2 separate regions of the Homo sapiens genome follow, and region 2 is linked to region 1. Evidence: fine-mapped expression QTL. A gene starts in region 1. The other region holds a variant in brackets. All regions are shown on one strand. Distances are between the middles of the regions.

Region 1 (12,461 bases):
GTACAAGATGGCGTATTTTCTCAAAAGGTCATGTTGCCTAAAGGTACTGGTGCCTTACCAGGCGTATGCTTGGTGCTTTAAAATAGACAAAATATTGAAGGTATTTTATATCCTTAAGCCATTTCGGAAGCCCCTGATAAGTAAGTAGAAGAGAAACACCCTTTGGAACACATGAAGAAGTATATTTGGAGGCTAAGGAAGTAAACTTTAGTTCCCTCCACTTTTTTGCATTTGAGATCTTAGAAAAGCGTTTTAAGGTCAGAGTTTTTTTTTTTCCGCACATGAGTACAAAGGCATTATTAACTGCACACCTCTCCTACTTTTTTTGTTTATCAGCTTTCACTTATGATAGAGTTTTACTGTACTTAGAATCATGCACAGATGACATTTGGTGTCTATTTGTTATTTCACTGTTTTGTAGACACCAAATTTTGTGTTTAGGGAAAAGACGCGTATACTCCAAATTAATTCAGCTACCCTACAAATAGAAATGCTAATTAATATCATGAAGGGTAATAACTACTGGAACGAAGCCTTTGCTCCTGGAGTACTTAATTTATTGAGTAATTCTACTCTTTTTCTCCTTGAAGGATCTCAAGGGAGCTGGCATCAGGTTTTCAAGATGCCGAAACCTTCTCCTTAATTATTTCTGCTCACATACTCTTCCAATGAGGGCGTGATGCAGCACCCGCCTCCTCCCCAACCAGATGATTCCGGAAAGTACGGTGCTGCAAAAGGACATTTCAGAGCGCTTTCAACAAGCTAACTGTCCAGTGAAGTTCAGCTCCGAATTCTGGTAACCGTTCAAGCCCTGTCAGTCCGGTAAATTGGGTTAACTTAGCAACTCGGTGGTGCAAAGCCTCCCCAAAGACAAGACCGCATTCAGGGAGAAGAGAACCAGCCTCATGCCTGAGCCGATCTTTCTTCCTTTGGTTGTCCTCCTTCATTATTATTCTGCAATGCGCAGCAATCCCTGTGCGTGCCCCTGTGTCAGCCCCTTAGCTGGTCACTCCAGCGGGGCTGGGAGAAGACCACTTTGGCTACTCAGATGGCACTATGCTGTTTAATTTCTTCTGCTCTCTCCCTCAGAGTCTAACTAAGCCCTTGCAGCACTTGAGCCGGGGGCTGCCCTCCTGCTGGCCTTTCCGTCGTCGTTGAACGGATCTGGGGGACGGGGACGTTGCAGAGGAGCCACAATCCCCACTCGTTGTTTCCCCAATGTGCTTTCCGAACTCCCCGAGTGCGTCTTAGATAAGTTATTTGAGTGAGGACAGCGCTGCGGTCCGCCTGGAGAAAGGGAGCTTCCTCCGCACTTCTACTTCATCGTGACAGCAGTGGTCGCAGCGCCACTGGCCATCTGGAGTCCTGGGAACATTAAAGCGCTGTTACCCGCCAGGCGTTTCCGCCTAGGACACACTCACACCCACCCTCGGAGACTCCTAAAGGTTTCTCCGTGTCAATTCATGTGTCCTCCTCCCAGCAGCACACACGCACACACGCACATCAACAGCCAAGTCAGCCACCCAGTTTCAACTTCGGGTTGTCCATGAAAATTCAGGGAGGCTGATCTTCTTGAAGAAATTAATGAGTATTCCCACAGGAAATAGATGTAAGGGAGGGGCGCCTGTCCAAACTACAGCAGGAGGGGGCCCTGACTCAAATACAAAGGTTACCTTTCAGTGGGTTTCTCAGTCTTGCTAGTGTTGGGGGAAGGGTTTTGATAATGGTTTTGTCTAGGTGGGTTTTTGTTTGCTGTTATTATTTTGAAAAGACATTGATTTCCCTTCCCTCAGCCCCCTTTGTAAAGCTCTCTCAAGCTGAGACAGATATTTTCCTGATGTGTTGGGAAAGACTGTCGCCTTATGGGCGAGGACTGTGGGTGTCAGTCCCCGGGACACACGCGGGGCTGAAAGCTCCGGACATGGCCACCTGGGCGGGCGTCTGTAAAAGGTGCTAATGAGTGCCTCTGGCAGCTCTTCCCCCTCATAAGACACCCGCGCCCCTCTCCAGTAGCAACTAACTGCGGGAGAGGATGCGATTTCCACTTTTCCAAAAGACCTCTGTGGCAGGAGTAGTATCTCCTTGGAGTCTCAGAGCACGCAGAAACGTGGATCCTTCGCGAAGTCGCTCTGGCGAGAATCCCTGGAAAGACGCTCTGGCGTGGGGTGCGCGACGCCGCACCCGGTCTCCCACCTGCTGCCTACCCAGAGATCTGTGCCTTCGCGGTACCTTCGCTGCACGGTGTGTGTTCCCCTGGGATCCACTGACAAGCAGCGTGGGAAAACATCCCATGGATGTCTCTTTACATGGGCGGGACGCTTAAGCACGACTTGGAGATTCACAGTTTCTATCTGGGTGAGACCTAAACAGACACGCTGCAGCTGGAGGCATTTCAGAAACCTCTGCCTGTGTGTGTGTGTGCGTGTGTACCTGTGTGGGGGGTGCGGGGGAGGGGAGTTCAGTTTGAAATAGGCATGGATCAAGTCTAGGCAGCACCTGCCCTGTCCCACGCCTCAGTTTGGTGCTCTCCACAGCCTTTTATTTCACATGACAGTGGAAATGAAATGCCAAGGAAAGGTTGTTTTCCTTTTCAGCCCCACCCGAGTGGTTCAGGCCTACCTAAGACCACTTTATCTTACACTCCGAGGCGTTTCCTCCCACTAAGCCTCTTTGTCATTGCTGTTGAACGCAAAGGTGAGATGGTGGAGGGATGAAAACTGTAGGCAGATGGTGTAATTCTCGTGGCTAGAGCTGTTCACGTGGAAAACTGCCTGCCTCGGACTTCCTGGACCCTCACGCTAGTCTAGATTAGAACCTGCAAAATCCTTACAACGGCTCCCCAGTCTGAGGTTTTTCATGGACCTCACATTCCAGAAGAAAGTGTAGAAGACAAAAGCGAGCATAGACATTGGGGCAAACAATGTTTAAGGCATTGCATCAATCTTGGCTTTAGGAAAGCCTTGAGACAGGTGAAATTAAAATAAAATGAGGAAAGGGAGAGTAAAAAGCAACTATCAAAATTGGCATCATTCGGAGATTGACAGCAGGTCTAAAACATAAAACCTATGCAAATTTCTCAGAATTTGGGGACAGTATTCCAAGTCGTAAAATGTAGGAGATGCCTTCCAAGTGCCCGATGAGTGACAATAACTTTATTGACATTGAAAAAAAATGTTTTTTACGTATAGTCTGTAGAATATTGATTTTGCACAGGATCAAAGAAGGCTATGACATACTCTTCCTTCTCAATATCTCCAAAGCTAAACCGATTATATCAGTCCAAAGTAAATTAACGCGCCTTTCCTTTCTATCGGCGCATCTCATTCGGAAAATACGGTAGGTGCGGGCAGCCGGGGCTCTAATTGCAGGCGGCGCGGATCAGCGTTAGTCAGGCTGTAATGCTCGCCCCGCTTCGGAGACTTCCCTCCCCCTCATCTGCCCCCGAATGTGTTTTGGCTCAACAGGTATCACATGAAAACTCGCACTTAAACCCTGGTCATCTTCTCACAGGAGCCACCCTTACATTTTTCTGCCAGGGCTGCTGCTGGCTATTCGCGCCTCCCCCACGCGAAGCGCGCGTCTAGCAGGCAGCCCCAGGGCCATCCATTAACCACCAACTCCCAGTGGCAGGCGAACTAAGCATAAATGTGTGGCTCCTCACCCGTCGAGCCAGCGACAAAGAAACCTTGTAAGCAACCTGAGCCGTGCTTTGTACATTTGGCAGTGTAGTTGTGCCACTTAGGACAAGCTTTTCGGCTCAGAGCTGCTCTGAGGCCCCAGAGAGAAAAGAAAAATCAAGCTTCAAGGAGCAGGTTGGGATTACAAGGCAGTTGCTGCCACAGAGACCGGGGCGACTGACTTCCTGGCATTTTGGGATGTAAATTAAAATTCTAGACATGCCACCCATCATTGGTTATAGTAGAGGGAAAGGTAACCTCTCCAGCTCCCTCCTCCCAAAACATGAATTATCATTTCCACTGAATGCAAATGAGCTGCCTTCCGTGGGGGGACAGCCAGCTGCAAGCTGGACAATAAACTGTTTCATAGAGACGCGGCCCGATTGCAGTTCAGAGAGGCACTCCTTTACAAAGGAAGAAGCGTCCAGTTTGTGTTGACAGCCCTGGCGCGCCTGGGCCAAAACAGCACCCCCTTTCCCGCGATCCCCCGCCCCCCCGCGACACACAGACACCCGGGATTTGAAACTAGCTTCACTGAAAGCGGCATCCATAGCGTCTATTCGAGCTGCCATGAGTATGGAGAGGTGATTGTTCAAAAAATGATGGCATGAGTCATAAACACCTCCTGAGTATTCTTTGCAGCAATTAATGGGCAGCAGGGTGCCGGAGAAGTTGTGGAAGAGAGCTATGGATCTATTTTCTCCCTAAGGACAGCTCTTTTTCCCATGATCCTGACTGTCCCTTGCCTTCCTGCTTGGGAATACATTTTTACATCCCACCTACCCCCTCCCCTATCTGTGCATGTGACACTCACTCTACCTGTCTGAACGCTGAGACTTGCTGGGGATTTTCTTTTGGTCGTCAGCTAATGACTTTCCTCCTACCTCATTCATCCCTTAAGGTGGTTCTTTACACTTCATGGCATTTCAGACCCTTCGAAAGCCTCATTTTTTGCCAAACCTCTACCACAGGTCCTAGGGAAGCTCCCCTACATTTAACATTGCATAGAAGCCCAATTTACATACATATGCATGCAGACATTCATGTTGATGTGGCAGTGCTTGGAAGATCCCTGTGCCCTAATGCATTTAAAATCAACACATTCCTAGCACGTCGATAACTTTCTTCCCTGAAAGGGTTAAAAAGCATTTAGACCAGCGTCTTTAATATATATATTCCACCCAAAGCCTCAAGCCCTAGTGATCTGACAAGAAATCAAGGTAATCCTCACCACTAAGAAAAGTCTTGCAGAGGAATTCTGCCTGGATATCCACTAGTTAGAGGCTATACTAACCAACTCACGTATTCGTTTGAGCATACTGCAAGAATATTTATTGAGCACAAGCTCAATCACCGCATTGAACGCCAAATCTGGCAAGCAAAATGCATTTCCTATCTGAGGGGGGGAGAACGAGCTGTGAATCAACTCCTTTAGTATTATCAGATTATTTTATCGGTGCAAATTGCAAAGTAAGCTGCCAGCCTCTCTCCATCTACAAGTCAGCCCACCTCCATCCAAAGCGGAGGGGACCCCCAAAGCAGACCTACCTTTCACACAAGACACCGTCAATAAAAAGACGAGGTTCCAAAACGTAAATCCACTTTTAATCCCCATTTTCTTCATCAGGATGAAGTCTAGGCGGCCACATTTAGCGCATCTTCGCTTGCCAGGCTCCCAGGGTTTGGATTCCTTTGCTCGGCTTTCCCCTTTGCGGATCCCTTTCATATTATTCGCGAGCTCCTAATTCCTGCTCCTCAGCCCGGCGCAGTGGAGTTGTTGCTGTTGTTGGTGCGCGGTCACAGCTCGGAGTGAATGGTGTTTCTGGGATACCACAGCAACCTTGACGAGGACTCAACCATCTCTCCAACGGGGGCACAAAGTCTCCGCTACTCTGGATTCTGTCTTTTCTTGTGCGTTTTTTCCCCTCCACCAAAATCTACCCCAATTCTGGCTCGTTATAGCAACCACCAGAAACCACTAGTGAGCCTCTTAAAGCCCACCTCTGCTCTCTGATAAACTCCACACAATATTTGAAATTAAGGGGCTTGCTTTTTTTCCCCGAATAGATCAATTCTGCCTGTAAAAGCAGCCCAAGAAATAATGTTAGTGAGCTCTCCGTTGCAGGCTGCGAATACAGAAGCATGTCAAAGGAATATTTTAATCGGAGGATCTGTGTTGCTTTTGGGGAAACCGTGACGATAATGAATCGGGCTCCATCGATGCCCACGTCGTTATAATGGGACATGTGTTACTACTGTAGTTGCAGTATATTTCAGGCAGGCTTCTCCCATTTATTATCCTGTGATTTAATTGAAAAAGGAAATCACAGAGAATTTTCTCAATAAATTCTGCCTTCACACGGAAAAGAATGTATTTGAACACATGTATTTACATACTCAAATAACTACGTGTAAACCCTTCACCGGGTTTTTATGATTCGGGAAACGGATTTCATCCGTGGCCTGGGCGGGGGTGGGGTGGGGAGGGAAGTCAATGTCGTTTCCTCAAATAGTTCTCCCTTTCATCCTCCCAACCCCCTTTTCAGTTTGTGTGTGCCGCAGTTAAACTACTTTATCTGTGGTAGTTATCTAGAACAAACCCATTTGTCTTAATTCTGAATCGGTACCAAATATGTAAATAGGAGGTTTCTTTCAAAACGAAAAATGTATGTATCTATACATCTGGATCTGCTTCCCCCATGCACCACGCAAGGGTTAAGATTGCACAAGGGAAGAGTTCTTGCGCCATCTACTGGCCGTCTCCGAGCCGCCCGTTCTTCCTTCGCATGTATAAGGGACCCTGTTTTTGCCATCCCTTGGTGTCAGGGGAGCTGTGTCCCCGGGACCAGTATGTCGTGCTCCTTGATTTTTTTCGACCACGGTCCTGGCCCAAATCTTTCAATGAACAAGTTCCTTAGATTAGGCAACTGATTGGTGATCTGACCTTTTCGGGAATCTGGTCCCCTCTCAGCAGTGGGGAGTGCCACAGCGCTAGTTCTGAAACAGGATATTGCTGTTGCGTGTGGCTCCATTTAACTGCCTCAGGCTATCATGGGCGTGAGCGTCTATCAACAAGGCTTAGTCTAGAGGACTGCCCAACTTGAGTTTGCAGCTCCCTGCACTGTGCACAAATAATGGGTTTGGTCCCGTGCACCACAGCATTACCCTGGCCAGCTTTGTCCCTTGGCTCGCGTTGGAGCTGCCCGCTCAGCAGAGGAAGGCGTTAGAATCTGGAAGGAGTTCCGCTCTGGGAAGTGGGCACACTGCGAGTGTCCATAGGTTTGAGTGGCGAGTGAGTTCAATCTGCAGGCGTAGGAAGGCTTCTGATCTCTCGGGGTACGTGGCATTGTGTGTGGGCCTGTGATTCTCCCAGTTCGTGTGTGTGTGTGTGTGTGTGTGTGTGTGTCTGCGCGCGCGAGAGCATAAACGCGCTGTAGTGAGAGGTAAGTGTGCGTGTTTATGAAAGATACAAAGAGTGATTTGCCATGCGTAGGTGTTTTCCCAAGTGTATTTTTGCAGTACATATGCGTGTGCACGCCTGTGTGTGTTTGTGTGTTAGAGAGGGATTTCTGTCCTGGGTAGGGAGCTGTAGCAAAAGGTAAAAGCTGTAGACGCCCAGCTGACCTCATTAAATTCAGAGAGATACTTTAAGAGCCCTCAGGCAGAACATTGTCCCTTCTTTTCAGTGCTCTCTTTCATTGTCTGCATATGCAGGTTTCGAAGGGGAGTGGGCAACAAGGTAGGGACTAGACAGAGACTGGGAGGATCAACATGGAAAACGACATTAGCCTGCTAAGCCACCTTGGCAGCTGCTCTGGCATTGATTTCAGTCAAGATGTCAGCGTGTGGTGTTGCTGCTGTTGCCTTTGCTGGGCTGGACAACCAGTTAGAGATGTAAACAGGCCCTTGGACTTAATGAGGATGCTCAGCAAAAATCCTCCTTACCAAGTGTGCAGAGGTTAGTCACCTCAACTGAATTTACTTCTTATTAAAAGAAACAAAAATATTGGGTTTTATGCAATCTATTTGAACACATAACACATGGCTATACATCCAGACAGGAGGACTTCATGCCAAAAAAGCAAACAAACAAACCCCCCCGCAAAAAACCCTTTCTCAAAAGACAGGGTATTTTAACAGTAATTATTGTGCACAAAGTAAGTAAATTTTGATTAAAAGACCATAAAGATTACTAGTAAGATACCAATTTCTGATATTTATTTTCAAACACATGGCTAATCCTGTAATCCAATTATCTTTCCCTAAATGAATCCTGCCTATCATTTCATGTGAGATTGTTAAAAGATTTATCTGGAATCTCATAATATATTGAACAATACTATAATATCTAGTTTCTACAGCTCACAATAAATCACAAACCATTTTCACCTGTGTCTTCCAGCTTCTGAGACAGGATGGAAAATAATATTTCACAGACGGAAAAAGTTAAGGCATGAGGAGCTAAAGAGGTTTATCCAAAGTCACTATCAGGAACTTTGGTGTTTAGTCCAATGTGTTTAGGGCTAGATCTCACTAGTCTTTCTTGATGAACAGTATCCTCTTTAAGGAAAGATTTCCAAAGGTATTCCAGAAACACAAAATTTTCAGCCACAATCCTGGGTGAGAATCCTTTAGTTTCTCCAGAAGGGGTGGGGGCGGGGGAGGGAACATAGTGTCTACATTTGGGAGAAAGAAATTATCTCTTGTTGCTAATCTGTAGGAAAGCAACACAGCTATACATTCATTTGTGTGAGACTATTAGAAAGAGATTATGGAAAAATAGCTAACATAATAGCAAACTTCAGGTGCTTATTGTACATTAGGCATTGTGCTATGTTTACATAAGATATATTATTCAATCCTCACTACTTTCTGAGACAAGCTCTACAGCTTTCTGAGACAAGCATAACAACTATCCTAGTTTTACAGATGAAAAAAAAATTGATACACATAGAAGTTAACTGTCTTGCCTTGCCTGAAGTAACACATGTAAGAAGTATGAACCTATGGCACCTGATTTCAGAGTTAATATGCTTCCCTAATGTCCTATATTTTATGCTAGCTCCTACAGATGCTTGTTTTGAAATAGTCTAGTAACAAAAAGAATGAATCATTTTTACAGTACACATGATACATAATTATAGAAAAGCAATAATTTATAGTTTATAAGTGATAAAATTTTAGAATATATATGTACACATATAAATAAAAAACTTTTGTCCTTTTTATACTTATCAGTTACGAAAATTCCTCCTCTTTTTAAAAATTTTTATTTACTTCTTGCAGCCTATTGATCTTCCTACATATAGGTCGTGGTAAAACGTGACTTGGCAAGGATCATCAAGACACAATGATTAAGTACCCTTAAGAGCTTTTAAAAAGAGGTTAAATCAGAAATGCACAAGCTCTTTAAACTAGAAGTACTAGATTTCCATTCCTTTCCAGTTCCTTCCCCAAATACCTATGGAATACAATTAACTTTGATCTTAAAACAGGGCTGAATTGCACTAAAAAAGATAAAATAAGCCCCTCTCCAAAAATTGCCCAGTATTAGACTAGCCCCTTCAACATGTATTTACTATGTTTTGTCACCACAGGAGCAATATCAAAGATAAATGAACAAAATAATCAAAACAAAATGAGTACACTGAGAAAACACAACACAAAAATGTGGGAAGTGCGTTACCTTTAACTTTGGAAAGAAGCATATACTTTTGACAGCTATAAACTTAGTGTTTTTTTTTAATTTATATAATGGATATAAAGGTTTACATGGGGATTCTTGCTCAAGTGAAGTAATTTTTTTATAGAAATGTTCCTGCCTATTAAAACTAAATGTTCATTGACTGTAGACACACACACAGACACACAGACACACACACACACACACACACACACATTCTCACATGTATTTAATTAAAAGGCTGAAAATCAAATCTGTGGGTCTGTGGGAAAAAACTAGTTAGAGTAAGATAAAATGTTAATGATTACAAATAACCAAGCAGACATTTTCCTGCTCATTTGCAGTTTTTACATATAATTCACTGCCAGGAGAGTAGGGGGAAAAGAGGAATTCATTTTTCTCATTTTTCAATAAATGCTCATTCTTGGATCTGTCATGTCTGATCTCTCCAACTCCTGCGAAATAAAATATTTGAATTTAAATGTTGAATCTAGAATAATGAGGGGATTCTAATTTAAGTATATGCATTACCTTGATTTATAAATGTCCTTATTTGTTGAGGAAAAAGGAAAGTAAGAGACCTAGTATTCATGTTAAAGTAATTTTCTTTAAAACAGCAATATTTAAGAAGATAAATTATCAAGCCGATAGAAGGATCTGTCCTTCCTGTTGTAAATCAGGAACCATTGTAGAGAGGTGGAGACAGGCCTGTTGGAAGAGTCCTAAGTGTGCTTTCCTAGGAATTCATTTTTCTTATGTCCTGACTCCTCTTGCAATTTCATTAATACTGAAGCTTAACAGGCATTTCAATGTTTTTAAGCTTATAACAACATTAAGAACATCAGACTGAAGTTTATATGTCAAATAAAGGTAGTAACGTTGTATTACAAGAGAACAGAAAAGCCTTAAAACTGGACACAGAATCTATTGCTCTATCCATACAGACGAACTGTATTAACTGACTACAAAAAACACTTATTTTTATGTGAGCCACAAATATAATAATTTTGCCCACTTTCAAATTTTCTCAACTGCTTCATTCTTAAACATGGAAAATTTAAAATTACATATATTAAATAGTTTAAGATGAACCATATATGAGCTCTGTTTCCTGAAAGGAGGGAATCATGGTAAATAATTGGGGGGCATTTGGGTAATTACCCTGAAAGAGAGCAGATAAGAAGAATAGAGAGATTCTTTAAAGATTTCTCTGTTTGTCTTGAGTGTGTTTCACTCTCTTGCTCACCTGGGACTGATATTAAGTAACCTGTCTTTGCATAGAAGAACAAAAATAAAGAGTTAAGCAAAAGGTAGCTTTGCTAAATAATCAAGATAATTCGGGTCTCTGTGTTTCATCAGTAATAAAGTTGTGTCATTGACATTATCTGAATAAACCTCAATTCCTGGTATAGCAGATCTTTTTTTCATCATTCTTTAAACTCACATACACTGTATAGTTATGTAGTATCAGTTTCAAATGTCCTTAAGAATACATAAATAGCCAAGTGCAGTGGCTCACGCCTGTAATCCCAATACATTGGGAGGCCGAGGCAGGCAGATCACCTGAGGTCAGGAATTCAAGACTAGCCTGGCCAACACGGTGAAACCCCATCTATACTAAAAATACGAAAATTACCCGGTGTGGTGGCACACACTTGAAATCCCAGCTACTCTGGAGGCTGAGGCAGGAGAATCGCTTGAACCTGGAGGCAGATGTGGTGGTGAGCCGAGATCTGAGCAACAGAGTGAGATCCCGTCTCAAAACAAAACAAAACAAAACAAACCCCATGAATACTTAGAGAATATAAATCAAAAATGTTGATTTTATAAGATATAAAATATATCAAGATTATTATCAAAATGTAGTATATATTTGATTTCATATCCAGAGGTTATTCATATCCATCCAATTAGTTCATTATTATCTTTTAACAATTTGGTACTGTCTTTATTATCTACATATTCTCTGCTAATCTTTAAAATTAATGAAAAATTTTTTAGATAAATGCATATTTTTAAATATGCACAATAAAACCATTAATACTTTTTATTCTGTAGATTTTTAGTCCATTCTAAATTAGGTAGTATGTGTAGGACCTTCTTTCTATTTTGTTTCATTTATCCACTTAAGAATCAGTTTTTTGTAATTTTGTTAACTGAGAAATCTAAATATCTGCAATAAACAATTTACAACTGAAAGTCAATTCTAGAAACATGCAAGCTTAGTTCTTAAATTATATTTGATCATAATCCCAGAGCCCCAACATAGCAAAACACAGCCCACAGGTAGAAGGCAAGAACATTTCACCTGTGCTTGCAATCTCCTTTCACTCATAGTAGACTGCTTTGCTGGTGATAAAGCAGAATTCACTAACTTTTTGTAACTTTTAATTGTGATGTTAATTTTCCTAAATGTTTACAAACTCTTGAATGAAAGGAACCATTGAAAATAATTTGGTTGGATGCTTCACAAATTTAAAGATTTTTATTCACATACATGTGTATTGTACTTGGTTAAAAGCACTGACTATTCATATTTATTACTGTATAATTTGATCTAATTTTTAAGCTTCCCAAATGATCACTGTTATTTCATTTTTTAAAATTTATCTTAAAATTAATAAATGTTGAAATATTTCCTAGGATAAGAACACAGGAAGCCAAACAAAATAAGCATCCTTTTTTCAGATAGGACGATAACAGTGACGTTGACTTAAAATGATCATTTTGGCCACCAAAGGAAAGAAAATCAATGCAGCTGATTTTAGTTTGGCTACACATAATCCAATTTGGATTGCAAGTACAAATATGTGTCCCATCTGGACAGGGATCAATTTCATCTTTACTATTTGTGTAGCAGGTATTATTTTCATCTGAGTATTCTTTCATTTATTTAAGAAATCATTTTGAGCTCCTGTTGCAAGGAAACAAAAACAAGAAATACATGTTACTCTACCATCAAGAAACTTTCAATGTAATAGAAAGCATAGAATATATTCTCAAGTAACAAGAGTGAATGTCAGTAAAGTATAACCACTTTTTGAGACATGCTTGTAAAATACCAAGATGGTGGAAAATTATTTATAGCTAGGGAATTGGAG
Region 2 (12,461 bases), 370 kb before region 1:
ATACAGAGTCTAATTTAGAAAAGCTTCTGAAAATGTAATTGAAAAGAATGTTTAGTATCAATTTATCTTTAAGAAAAGAAAATTTAACTCTTCTTTTTCAGTCAAAAGAATGTATCTCTATCAGGGGTCTTTGGACACCAGTGTGAATCTCATTAGAGCCAAAAATTTACCAGAACATAAATTTAGAACAACTCATAATAAATATTTATGAAATTATAATTTTGGCCATATTATTATCACTCACCATTATCCAGAACACAAATTTCAAAATTAGCACTCAATGATTTCATTTGAAATAATCATAAGAAAATTTTGTTATTAGTAATATTGATAGATATAAAATATTTACATACGACAAGAACCAACACTCCCATATTCTATACATAAAATGAAAAGCTTTCTTTTTTAAAAATTCTATTCTACTTTTATATATCAGATGGCTTCAAAATAATTACTAATTTTAGAAGCAATGAGATGAATAGATATGTAGGATATGAAAATAGATATGTAGGATATGAAAAAAATATTAATAGAATTGTGCTCACCTTGGTAGATAACTATGGTATTGAACTACATTGTAATACGTGTCCTAAATAAAAGACTAAAATAGAAATTATGCAAACATTTTGTTTAATCTATTATAGAATCACTAAAGAAAAATTAGCTATTTTTACTTAGTAAGTGGAATATTTTAATGATCTGAAAGGGAGGATTTTTAAAACTGAATATGCTGTTCTTCATAAAATAAGAAAATATGTTTATATGGAAATATTTTAATTGAAATATCAAAATTCCATAGAATATTTACATCAGTTGGTACACAGCTTCTTTCAAATAAATTTTATTACCCTATCAAGAAAGCTTTTGAGAATTATAATCTAACTTTATTTCTTTTTATTGTTTTTAATTAGTTATATATTTTATTTCATGGGTTAGCCAGTTTGAAACATTAAGTATTGTGGGTTGAAGTAGAACATGACCTGATTTTAAATATTCCCAGCTAAAGTTAAATAAAATATGCATACTTTAGATAAAGTTTGAATATTATGTTTGTATTGCTTTTTACCTAACTTATTGAGTTTGCTGGGTTTTTTTAATAAACTTTCAAAACAAGGGAAAATATCCTATGATGTAGGATAGTACAGAAAAATGTTGGAAATACAGCCCTTAAGTTTAGTTTTGTCTGGTATTGATACATGACATGGAATAAGTCAATTTATTCATTAGCATTCCAATTTTTATATTAGAAACATTCATAATAAAAATAATACACTTAAAGATGCTAAGTTGATGAAAAAGTAACATGGGGGTACTTATATTGCAATTTTTATTTTAAATGTTCCCTTAGGTACTGTTTCTACTTTAATTAAAACTATTTCATAAATCTAAAGAAGAAGCTTCCCTAGCGATACCTGTAAACTCCACATTTTCTTATGGCTTCACTTATTTTAAAGTGCTGAAAGAGCCAAAATTTTATTTTTTACTCTATAGTTAGTTTTTAATTAAAATATTCAATGCCACCTACTAAAAAAACCCACACAATCAAATACAGTAAAAAGAAGTATACTGGAGATAATATAGACTTCAACAAATTAACTATAATTATTCTTGATTAATAGCTAACACATCACACTATAGCTAGCATGGCAAAAGGTAAGTGGTACTATAACCATCTGGAAATTAACAAATTTATTCAATAAATTACATAAAGTAACATTAATGTTTTATTATACATAGCAGAAAGCCTACTCATGATTCCCCAAAGACATTTGTGATGGTTAAAAATCTAAACAGTTTAGAAACTGACAGTAAAAACGCATACAAATGTTCATCCCTGTAGGCATCTCAAAGCAATTTGGATGATTTTATTTTGTGTAAGTTAGATTATATAACCCAAAACATACATTCCCATCACTGCATGAAACAAAGCTTATTATACTGGTGCTTTGAGACACTAATCTAGCACCTGGAAAATGGAAAAGTAAGAAAAGATTTGTCTCTGGTACCCTTGGCCTTCATTTGGAATGATCCTTTCACAGTACCTTGATAACAGCTGCCCTGAAATTGTTGCATCTTACTTCCCTAGTTTACAATCCACTCATTTTCCCTCCTATCTTTTATATTGTTCTGCATTTGATGCAGAACAATAAATGCTGGCACATGAATCAGATACAAATTTTCCATGCTAATATTTTCACAAACTACTTATTAACTAAAAGGAAACTACTATTTAAAACATATTTAAAATTGACATATTTCTTCATAAATTTGAAAAGTGGCTTAAATGTTGAAAAAGATCTGAGGTTATGGTTGTATGTAAGATGCAGATGTCATTTGCTAATTAGCTTAAGTTTCAGAACTATGAATCACTTTAAAGATATCAGCTATTTCTAAGAAAGTTTGATCTATTGGGAACAAAGAAAGGAAGACAGAGATTTAGAGAAGGTTCTGCTACTTTTGCTTCTGGGTGTTCATTGGAAACAGCCCTGGGAATTTTCCGTTTAAACTGCAGGAGGAAAAATAAGCAGCCAGAGAGTTAGCAGAAGATATAGGCAAGGGTAATTTTTTTTCTTTTAATATGATATGCAAATTAATTAGAAGCAATTAACCTAGCAGTAGGACTGAAGACTTTAGGGCCTTGTTTTATTTTTATTTATTTATTTTTTTTTTATTATACTCTAAGTTTTAGGGTACATGTGCACATTGTGCAGGTTAGTTACATATGTATACATGTGCCATGCTGGTGCGCTGCACCCACTAATGTGTCATCTAGCATTAGGTATATCTCCCAATGCTATCCTCTCCCCCCTCCCCCGACCCCACCACAGTCCCCAGAGTGTGATATTCCCCTTCCTGTGTCCATGTGATCTCATTGTTCAATTCCCACCTATGAGTGAGAATATGCGGTGTTTGGTTTTTTGTTCTTGCGATAGTTTACTGAGAATGATGGTTTCCAATTTCATCCATGTCCCTACAAAGGATATGAACTCATCATTTTTTATGGCTGCATAGTATTCCATGGTGTATATGTGCCACATTTTCTTAATCCAGTCTATCATTGTTGGACATCTGGGTTGGTTCCAAGTCTTTGCTATTGTGAATAGTGTAGGGCCTTGTTTTAATGTCAAGGTTTATGTGGAACTGAGGAGCTGTGGGTCCTTAGAACTATATACCATAAACCTGAGGTTACTTCACTGGCAACAAAACACAATTAACTATAGACACAAATATAGTAATACTTCTCCTTTATATTTGTTGCTTATTTAAAATTTTTGCTTTTAAGCTATGGTATTCATGTATTTAATAAGACATACTCTATTTTACAAAAAATATTAAGTTCATATTATGCATTTGGATTTTCTTTAAAAAAGGTAGCCAAAAAAGCAAAGGGGTTGTCTCAAAAGATATTGCAGAAGCTGTGCATGTTTCTACACAGCACCAGCCAAAACTCAGTTAAAAAATTGGAGAAAAGCATAACTCTCTACCCTGCATCGCAAATCAGCTGAGGTTTAGGAAATGTTAAATGAAATGTCTCCATCTGCTATATCAAGAAGAATAACAATACCTGTAATTGCCAACACCAATAATACCCTTGAAAAATAGTCTTTACATATCATCTCTATTTCTTTTCTATACAATTATCTTCTCAATGTGATCTGACTTTAAGTAGCTGCACTCTATTGAGATAAGTCAGATTACTAATCTCACAAACCCCCTGGAGATTTTTTGTCATCCTTCTTAGCTTCTCAGAGCAGCTGGAACATACCCACCTCTTGTCTTTTCTGTGGGGCCATAACCCTGTTATCTCTTTCCACTCCTTCTCAGATCTTTTAAGGTCCCATATTTCTCTGATCTATTGTGTTGTTTGGAATTGCATGCACATCACTCTTGTGTTTTGGAAGGTATGCAGTCCCTGAAAATTGTAGCTACACATTATAGGGTTCTGCTATATAGGAAAAGAACATCAGCTTTAGTATCAAATAGACTTTACTAGGGTTTCAGAGGAATTATTGTCCACATGAATACTAGATTCATCCAAGAGTTTAATTATAATTCAGAGTAGATATGTGAGTCAGGAAGTTAAGCTCCTATGAGGAACTAGGAGCCTGGCCTGAATAACTGAGTAAAGGAAAGGCATTATGAGGCTGAGAGAAAACAAAAACAAATAAACAAAATGGCCTGATGTTTTCATGTGTTTTTGAATTGATTAGTAAAAGGTATACATGGAATTCACTGTTCACATATTTCAAATAGACTTTTGTCATTAAACTGTTTTGATTTACAGATGGTTTAGGTACCCATATATTTTTGATACTTGATTGCTATAACTCTAGAATTTATATCCCTAGAATTATATGCATATTTTAAGGTAGAAGCATTTTTATTTAATGTTGTTGGGATACAAATCATAGGTTAATAAAAAAAAAGTTAAAGCAGGATATCAAAAATTCTGTAAAGGAATAAATACATAACTTAAATATTGTATTTTATCTTAAGATGTGTAGATGCATAGCCCATTCACTAATCTTATGATATAGACTCAAGAACTTTTCTTTAAACATCTAATAATTGTAATTATTTCATTATGTCTTCTTTGTACATAATTCATGATACATAGTTTCTTATCATTCCAAGTTGAAAAAACTTGAGTAAAAATTAGAGACACCAGTTAAGCAATCTTAGTTTGAAAACTCT[TA/T]ATTTGTCTATTGTTAATTCTATTACTTTTCTATTATTTTCTACTTTTAATTATTTTATATTAATGGCTTCCTATTTTTAAAGATATCTTGTCCACACCTAATTCAGGCAAATTTTTAGTAACTCATCCTTAAGTTTTCTCTAAGCATTCAAATTGGTTTTTGTACAAAAAAAGTTCATTGTTTATTTATTGACATTTCATCAAGTTACATATATACACACTAAAAGTATCCCAATAAGCCTAAGAAGTTTGTACTAAATACAATTGATTCTAAATAAGCATGAATATGAACTGCTCGGAACAAAATTATTCAGACAATATATGTGGTAGTCTGCTAAACAAAATAGCTTATTGCACTATAGAAACAGTTCAGTATATTTTATCAAAGAAATGAAACGTATTTGTTAGTCCAGTTGGTTGATTAAATAGAGGATTGATGAAAAGCACCTTGTATTTTGTCTGATTATTTCCACAACTGAAATTGTTGGTTTCTACAATAATTACTAATATATAAATGTGTAATGAAGCAGTAGGTATTAAAAAGCAGTTGAATAGGCCTATTACTACTGCTTATTTCCAATTCTTCCCTGTATCATGAAAATGAAAAGGCTGGTCAAATGAACCATATCATTAAAATATTACATATTTACTTTATATTCAAATGCTCCCTTTTGTTTGACAAAAATCTAGGTGTAACTGTTGAGGAAAAGCCAGACACATTTGTATTGTCTCTTTCTAAGCTGCATATTATATTGAGCCATTATTTAAGCTATTTAATAGTATGTATGGTATAACCTATGGTCTGGAAATTTGTTTTGCAAAGCTATATATATATTATCATTTAATTAATCTGAAAATACACAAAAGTATTTTCCGCTTTTATAGGTGACTTACATATGTAAATATAAAAGGAGTTATGCTTTATTATATAATATTGATTACTGATTATAGTTTTGTTAAAGGCTAACTTATAAGTAAGAGTTAATTTGCATCATATTTTGACTGTTTACATACACATTTTTTAAATGTTTCCAGAAAGAAAAAAAAAATTCAAATGTTTCAATCACATTCCCTACAAATATTTTACATTTGAAGTTTTCCTTCATTTTACTGGTAAAGCATCCAGCTAGAAAAATAAAAAGTAAAAAAAAAAAGCAAAACAAAACTTTACCATTCACAGTGATAGAATTGAGATTAGAATTCAGGTTACCTGATGCCTTTTAAGTTTGCATTACAGTAACAGAACATTTTTCTCTCTTTCATAGTACTTTCTATTTAACTAATATTGTCATTGCTGTGTCAAGTTATTTATCCAAAGGTATCCTCACTTCATGGATATTTATTTAGAAACTGTATTGATTTAAAACAGATACTACATTTTATACTAAAAATAGCATGCACAATCTTTAATATCTACTTTAATTACTGCATTTTCAGATTTATATTTAATTTGCTAATGAAATAGTGACAAGATTCATGTCAAGCATGCTACTTATACACTTGATTTCCTTTGAAAATTAAAACTCTGACCTGAAAATAAGCACACTGTTCAGGGATACCATCTTGTTAGTTTAGTTGTTAGTTACCCGCTGTTCTTAATAAATCAGTCTGCAAACTACTGATCCATGTTACTGCATTTTTACCTCTCTATTTGTTGGAAACATGTGCCTACAAACCAAACATAACTCTATTTAGTTTGTCAAATTGAAGATATCCTATCTACTTCAGGTGTAAGTTATGTTTACAGATATTTAAAGCAAAATAAATATCAGTAAATGTAATATCAGAATTATGATTTTCAAATCATAATTCACAATGAATTCAAATATTTTTAATATCAGCAAATAGATGATAGTAATAGGTGATACAGTATTATTAAGTTTTATAATACAATAAAATTCCTTTAATATATTAAAAGGACTATAATAAATAGTAAGGTCTAAGCAATGAATTTTAGGAAAACCTTTTAGTATATTAATAATAGTCCTTTAATAATATATTAAAGGACTCGCCTAAAATTCATTGCTTAAACTATACTATTTATTATAGTTACAATGACAGAAACTTGCCTAAAATTCATTGCTTAAACTATACTATTTATTATAGTTACAATGACAGAAGCTTATTATAATCAGTATATTTTAAAATCATTTCAGTGGTTTTACATGAACCATTTGCTTTGTGTTTATTCTCAAACATTGTTGAGCACCTTAGGTAGTAACCTTAAGAAATCCTTGAATTCACAGATTAAATTAAAACTGTATTTATGAATACAATTAGTAAGTACCCATTTGGCCCCATTTTGTCCATTTCATTAAAATATATAGAGAGAGATATTGTCTTTTCTATGTTTAATATATAACTTATTTAACATGTTCACAGAGCAAGCAAATCATGAGGCAATAAGAAAAATAAATAAATTATGCAAAACTTGGGGTTTTTTAAAAGGACTTTTTAAATTAATTCATTTATTTAAGATCTACTTCACTCTCCAAATGTATTTGACACTCTTAACAAAAACGAAAATAATACAGCAGGATAAAACTAAGCTATTGAGGAAATTAGTAAAGGATAATTAATAGGAGAATAAGATAAGGCCACCCAGTGGTGAGCTATAGCCAACAGGTAGCTTGAGAGAGCTGATTCTGTTCATTTCTTTGTAACTCCATGTTCAGTGATAGCAGGTTAGTAGCTTGGTTGATCATAAAATTAAACATGCCACAAATAACAAATTACGGCTTTTTCTTTTCTTTTCTTTTATTTATTTTGGAAGACAGGGCTTAGCAGTACATCACTGAAGCCATTCTGTCTCTGAAAATATCTCCTAGAAGATATCCTGAATCAACTCCATTATATTGACAAAAGATTGCTGAATATGACAAAAATATGTGTCACAGATTAGCACCAAGATAAATTTAGCTTGAATACTTTTAAAGAAAAACAATTGATACTTTTAATAAGTATGCATGGAACAATTAAATTATGTGGTGTTCTGTTGTATCTACAAAAATAGTGAAAATATACAGCTATATAGTTGACAATATTGTTGGTAATCTGGAGTTATAAATGAGCTAATTAGGTATAAATGTATATCAAATACAGTGCTTTGGGCTTGCTTGGATTGTACTAACCTATATTATTTTGCAATAAATAAGTAACTGAATAAATTGTTTGTTGATTTCAGCCTTAGGTTGTGACAAAAAAATACAAAACAAAATATTAGTTTAGAGAAGACGTACCTTGCTATTTTAAGTTCTAAGTACATGAAAGTTATAAGTACATGAAAAAGCTGTTTCAGATGATTAAAGTCCAAATAAGAGGCAAGGCATGGGGAATAAAACAGCCTCATGTTTTTGTTTGTTTGTTTGTTTTTCAGACGGAGTCTCGCTCTGTCGCCCAGGATGGAGTGCAGTGGCGCGATCTCGGTTCACTGCCAGCTCCGCCTCCTGGGTTCACGCCATTCTCCTGCCTCAGCCTCCCGAGTAGCTGGGACTACAGGTGCCCACCACCACGCCTGGCTAATTTTTTTTGTATTTTTAGTAGAGACAGGGTTTCACCATGTTAGCCAAGATGGTCTCGATCTCCTGACTTCGTGATCCGCCCGCCTCGTGCTCCCGAAGTGCTGGGATTACAGGCGTGAGCCACCGTGCCTGGCAAAAACAGCCTCATGTTTTAAAAAATTATCTGGTCTTTATCATATGTCATTCCTTCAGACCCTCCATTATGATGTCAGTGAAGGTTATGGGCATCACAGCATTAGTAGCTGAAGTTATTAATTAGGTTCACAAAACTTCAAGTCAATAGTTTTTATATCACATGTAGAATGTACATGATATATTAGTATTGGTATCTTTTAATGAAGGTGTATGTTCTACAGTATACAAATACATTACAGTTATATTTTATATTATTTATTATATTGCTCCATATTATATACCATATTGGGTATGTAAATATGAATGCTTTATACAGTGATAAATAAACAAATGGCAATGCATGCTCTGCTCAATTTTTTTTTTTCTGAGAGGTGTGCACAATAAAAAAGTTTGGAAACCCTTATTCTTGCTCTTGTCTCAAGGTCAAAGACCCAAGAAAAAGAAAAAAAAAAAAAAGAAAGAAAAAGAAAGGACAAAAAAGCGAGACAAATTGTTTGGTATATTGTGCTATAGATTAGTAGGTTAATTATTAATGATAAAATAGGTCTAAATTTGTACAGTATATTGTTCTGAGGACTTTAGAACTCTAACGTAGAGCACAAAGAGAAAAAGTGTTTTTGAATATTAGGTGGAGGCTTCATCTGTAGTTTGTTATGGAGTATGAAGAGGAGAGGGTGAGGTATGGAAGTAGAGGACTTCAGTTAAAAAAAAAGAAAGAGAAGAAAACAAATGATGAGAATGATTAGATCGACTACCTCTAAATGATGAATAATTCTAAAGATTTGTTTCACCAATCAGTAAGTGAAAATTTTAGTTAGCATAAGAGAATTCTTTTCAGTGGCTTTTAATTTCTGCCTTTTAAATTAACTGTGTCCCAGATTCCAGCTCTCAATACATCAGAGAAAAATATACAGTATACCTCATTTGGGCTAGTATTCCTGCTATAAATCTGAAAAAACAAGCTTCTCAAATATCAATCATGCATATCATAAAGGGGGATAAATCAGAATCTGGTCTCATTTATGACTCTAATTTACAAAGCAAATTTATAGTATAAGAAAAAGATCTGTTAGCAAAAGTTCTCTAACATCATGGACTATCTCTAGAGAAAGTAGAGCTAGAAAAAAAACAGATATCATTGGTTAAAATTCTCATATAGGATGGGACTAAGAAAATATTGCTTTGTAAGTCTAATATGCTATTCCATAATACATTAGATCAGGAGTAGGGTGGGAATGATGCCATTTTGTTTATTTCTAAAGGAAGAAAACAGCCTAATTTGGATTAAGTAATATTAAGAACTAAAACCTGAAGAATCATTTTTAGAGCCTCCTGGTAATTCAAGATTGATATTTGCTCCCTTTTGAAATGACAAGTGAAGAAAAAGAGAATTCCAATATTTTTTGTCTTCTTTTTCTCTGAAAATTTCCTTGGGAAAACAAGGGCTATGGAAAATGGTGAAATGGAAATTTTAAATTCCCTTTTATACTTACATTCTACTAAGATCCAGACTTCCTCTTTTCTTTGTAAATTGTCCAGTCTCAGTTCTTTATAGCAATGTGAGAATGGACTAATACAGTACATACTACAGTGCAAGAATCGAAGTTAGTGTAAGCAAAAAAATTACTGATTCCATTACAAACTTCTTAGACATATGAAATGTCTTCAGACTATTCATAATTATCAATCCTACTGAGAGCAGACTAGTACGGAATGGACTGAAATTGCAGCATAGATATTTAGGATCCATTCATGAATGCCTCAGTCCTTAAGCTTTGTGAAGTTCTAAAATTTATATAGTGTAAAGCTTGAAATATTAGGTTGGTGCAAAAATTATTACAATTTTGCCATTGAACACAATAGCAAAAACTGCAATAACTTTTGTACCAACTTAATATGTCAAGTATGCCTTAATTGAATGCATTCTTAGCACAGGTTCAGACAAATTGGACACTAAAATATTTATAAGTTGACGGAAAATTTTACAGCAGAAAGTAACACTCAAAAATAGTGACTTATTTTGTTTTTTCCAATATATTAAAAATACTTCTCATATGTTTTTTATTTCTTATAAGTTCAGCACCAAGAAAAGAGTGCTAGCAGTGGTTAATGCATGGTGTGCTTAGGGTATGAATGAGTTAATATCGCTCTTTAACTTGAAGATAATAAATGGTCTGAGCAACTCTCCCATAGCATTATCCTAAAATCACCAGGGCAACATTCTGCTTCAGTGGTTTAAATGTGCCCTGGTGGTTTGAAACATAATTGCACTGCTCTGGACACCTAATTGACTACAAGGGACTGACTTAGGTACTTTGAATAAAATTTCATTACTTTAATTATTGTTCAGTGAGGTGTTCCAATGTTTTAAAACAAACTGTTCATGTGAAATTTTGTTTCTGTGGAAAAATGCTGTATAAAAAGAGTTCTGTATAAAATACCAACTTTTGAGTGAAGTTAATAATTTCATGTGCATTTTTAGTATAATAATCTTTAGTCATAAAGCATATTTAGTGAATACTACTGTGAATTCTCGATGACAAACAGCCAAATGTCAAAAAGCAAAATATTTGGACAATTGAAAATAAGGAAAATAATAACAGCTAAAACGTACTGGGACCATAATGAGCTTTTCATCATGTAACCTTATATTCCAATGAGATGGACATTAATATGCTAATTTTAGAGACTCCTGCACAAGAGAAATGTTGCTGTGATTGGTCAGATCCAGAGCCATTTATTGGAACATTTCTCTATGATGGGCAGAGTAACTATGATTTAAAGTCTCCAAACCAGTTTTCATATCTTTCCTATCTATTCTTTTGTGGTAAACACACCTAGCCCTTAGGACTGTGCCAACAATCATCTTTGTGTACCTGGTTAGAAATGTCAACTGGCAACCTTCTCCACAACAGCAATTTTACACTACGGAAGTACAAATTAAGAGGTCCTATTAGATGACCAGAACTAAGCCTTCTGTACCAGAAAAGCTCCCTATTATACCTAAAAGCAACCTGGTCTTTCTCAATTGTTAATAAATAGCATAATTTATTTTCTATTTGACTGTTGATGTTCTTGCTATTTTTTCTTCTATTTGTGTTGATGTTCTTGCTATTTTTTTCTTTTATTTCACTGTTGATGTTCTTGCTATTTTTTCTTCTATTTGACTGTTGATGCTCTTGCTGGTTTTATGGCTGGGAAATGAAAAAATTCTAGCGAGACAAATTCATCTGCAAATCTTAACAGCTATGATGTGAGTCTCACTATTTAATTCTGTATAAGGATAAACAGGTAAGGAAACAGTTACTAGGGAGTTAAGCAACTTAACCAAGGTTTCAAGTGAACAAAAACAAACCAAAAAAAAAGGAGGATTAGAGACGACAAACGATTTTCTGATATATATGAACTTCTTACCTCCCTGCCAAAAAAAACCACACAAATGTTATTAAGTTCCCTAATTTGCTTCAAAGTGGGCTTTAATTTTGTACTATAGAATAGGCTATTTTAAACTTGGCACACACAACGCTGCCTAGTAGATTAGACTATAAATATATGCCCACTCCATTCTATAGAAATCCTTCTACAGTGAAGGAAACAAACACAGCAGAACATAGCAAATTTCTGGGTTCCACTGTCTGCAAGTTTGGAACAACATGTCTTCTCTTTCAGTGCCCACTAAATTCTGGTGCTATCTGTCTGATTAGTGTTATAGTTATATAGTAATATGGGATTATAACTAAAAATACCCTATTTATTTTAAATTCCATGAATGTAAACTTGGATAGATAATTTAAAGTAATTTAAACACTTTTTAACTGTTAGAATTCTGTTTGAATTCAGTGAACAAAAATCTGACTTACAGTGGCCCTAATGAATAGATATTTATTGATCTTACATAGCAAGATGTCCAGATGTGGGCAGTAATGGGATGGTATAATTGCTCAAAGTGCCTTAGAAGAAAGATTTCATGAGTACTTCTTACTTTCCAATACTCCTTCCCTTCCAGGGCACATTGAAAACTGCAATTTCTCGCCCTCTTGCAGTTAGGCAGGTTCATGTAACTAGTTCAAGACAACAGAGTACGGGTAGAAGACATGCCACTTTCAAGT

Which allele goes with the higher level. Alleles are on the strand shown, and positions count from the first base shown. SD is a standard deviation of normalised expression in the study named.
For the expression in testis of the gene that starts at base 5,488 in region 1, T is the low allele of the variant in region 2 and TA is the other (small effect, 0.29 SD a copy in GTEx).

The links. PIP is the estimated chance that this variant, and not a neighbour inherited with it, causes the effect.
Region 2: its variant is the best candidate, but not a certain one, in a credible set for the expression of CSMD3 in testis (GTEx, PIP 0.64).

What each region holds. Positions count from the first base shown.
Region 1 is chr8:113,431,452-113,443,912 of GRCh38, forward strand. It overlaps CSMD3 (CUB and Sushi multiple domains 3), which reads right to left and starts at 5,488. Exons shown (of 71, transcript NM_198123.2): 1 at 5,226-5,488. The coding sequence starts at 5,403. LOC105375709 (a long non-coding RNA gene) reads left to right here and starts at 736. Exons shown (of 2, transcript XR_928544.3): 1 at 736-975; 2 at 1,090-1,679. RefSeq lists enhancers at 629-1,828, 1,135-1,638, 4,072-4,582, 6,360-6,409, 6,422-6,922 and 1 more.
Region 2 is chr8:113,057,336-113,069,796 of GRCh38, forward strand. All of the region lies in intron 5 of CSMD3 (CUB and Sushi multiple domains 3), which reads right to left. Among named protein-coding and RNA genes, the nearest start is that of CSMD3, 370 kb to the right of the region's middle. The variant TA/T (reference allele first, on the strand shown) is at 4,696.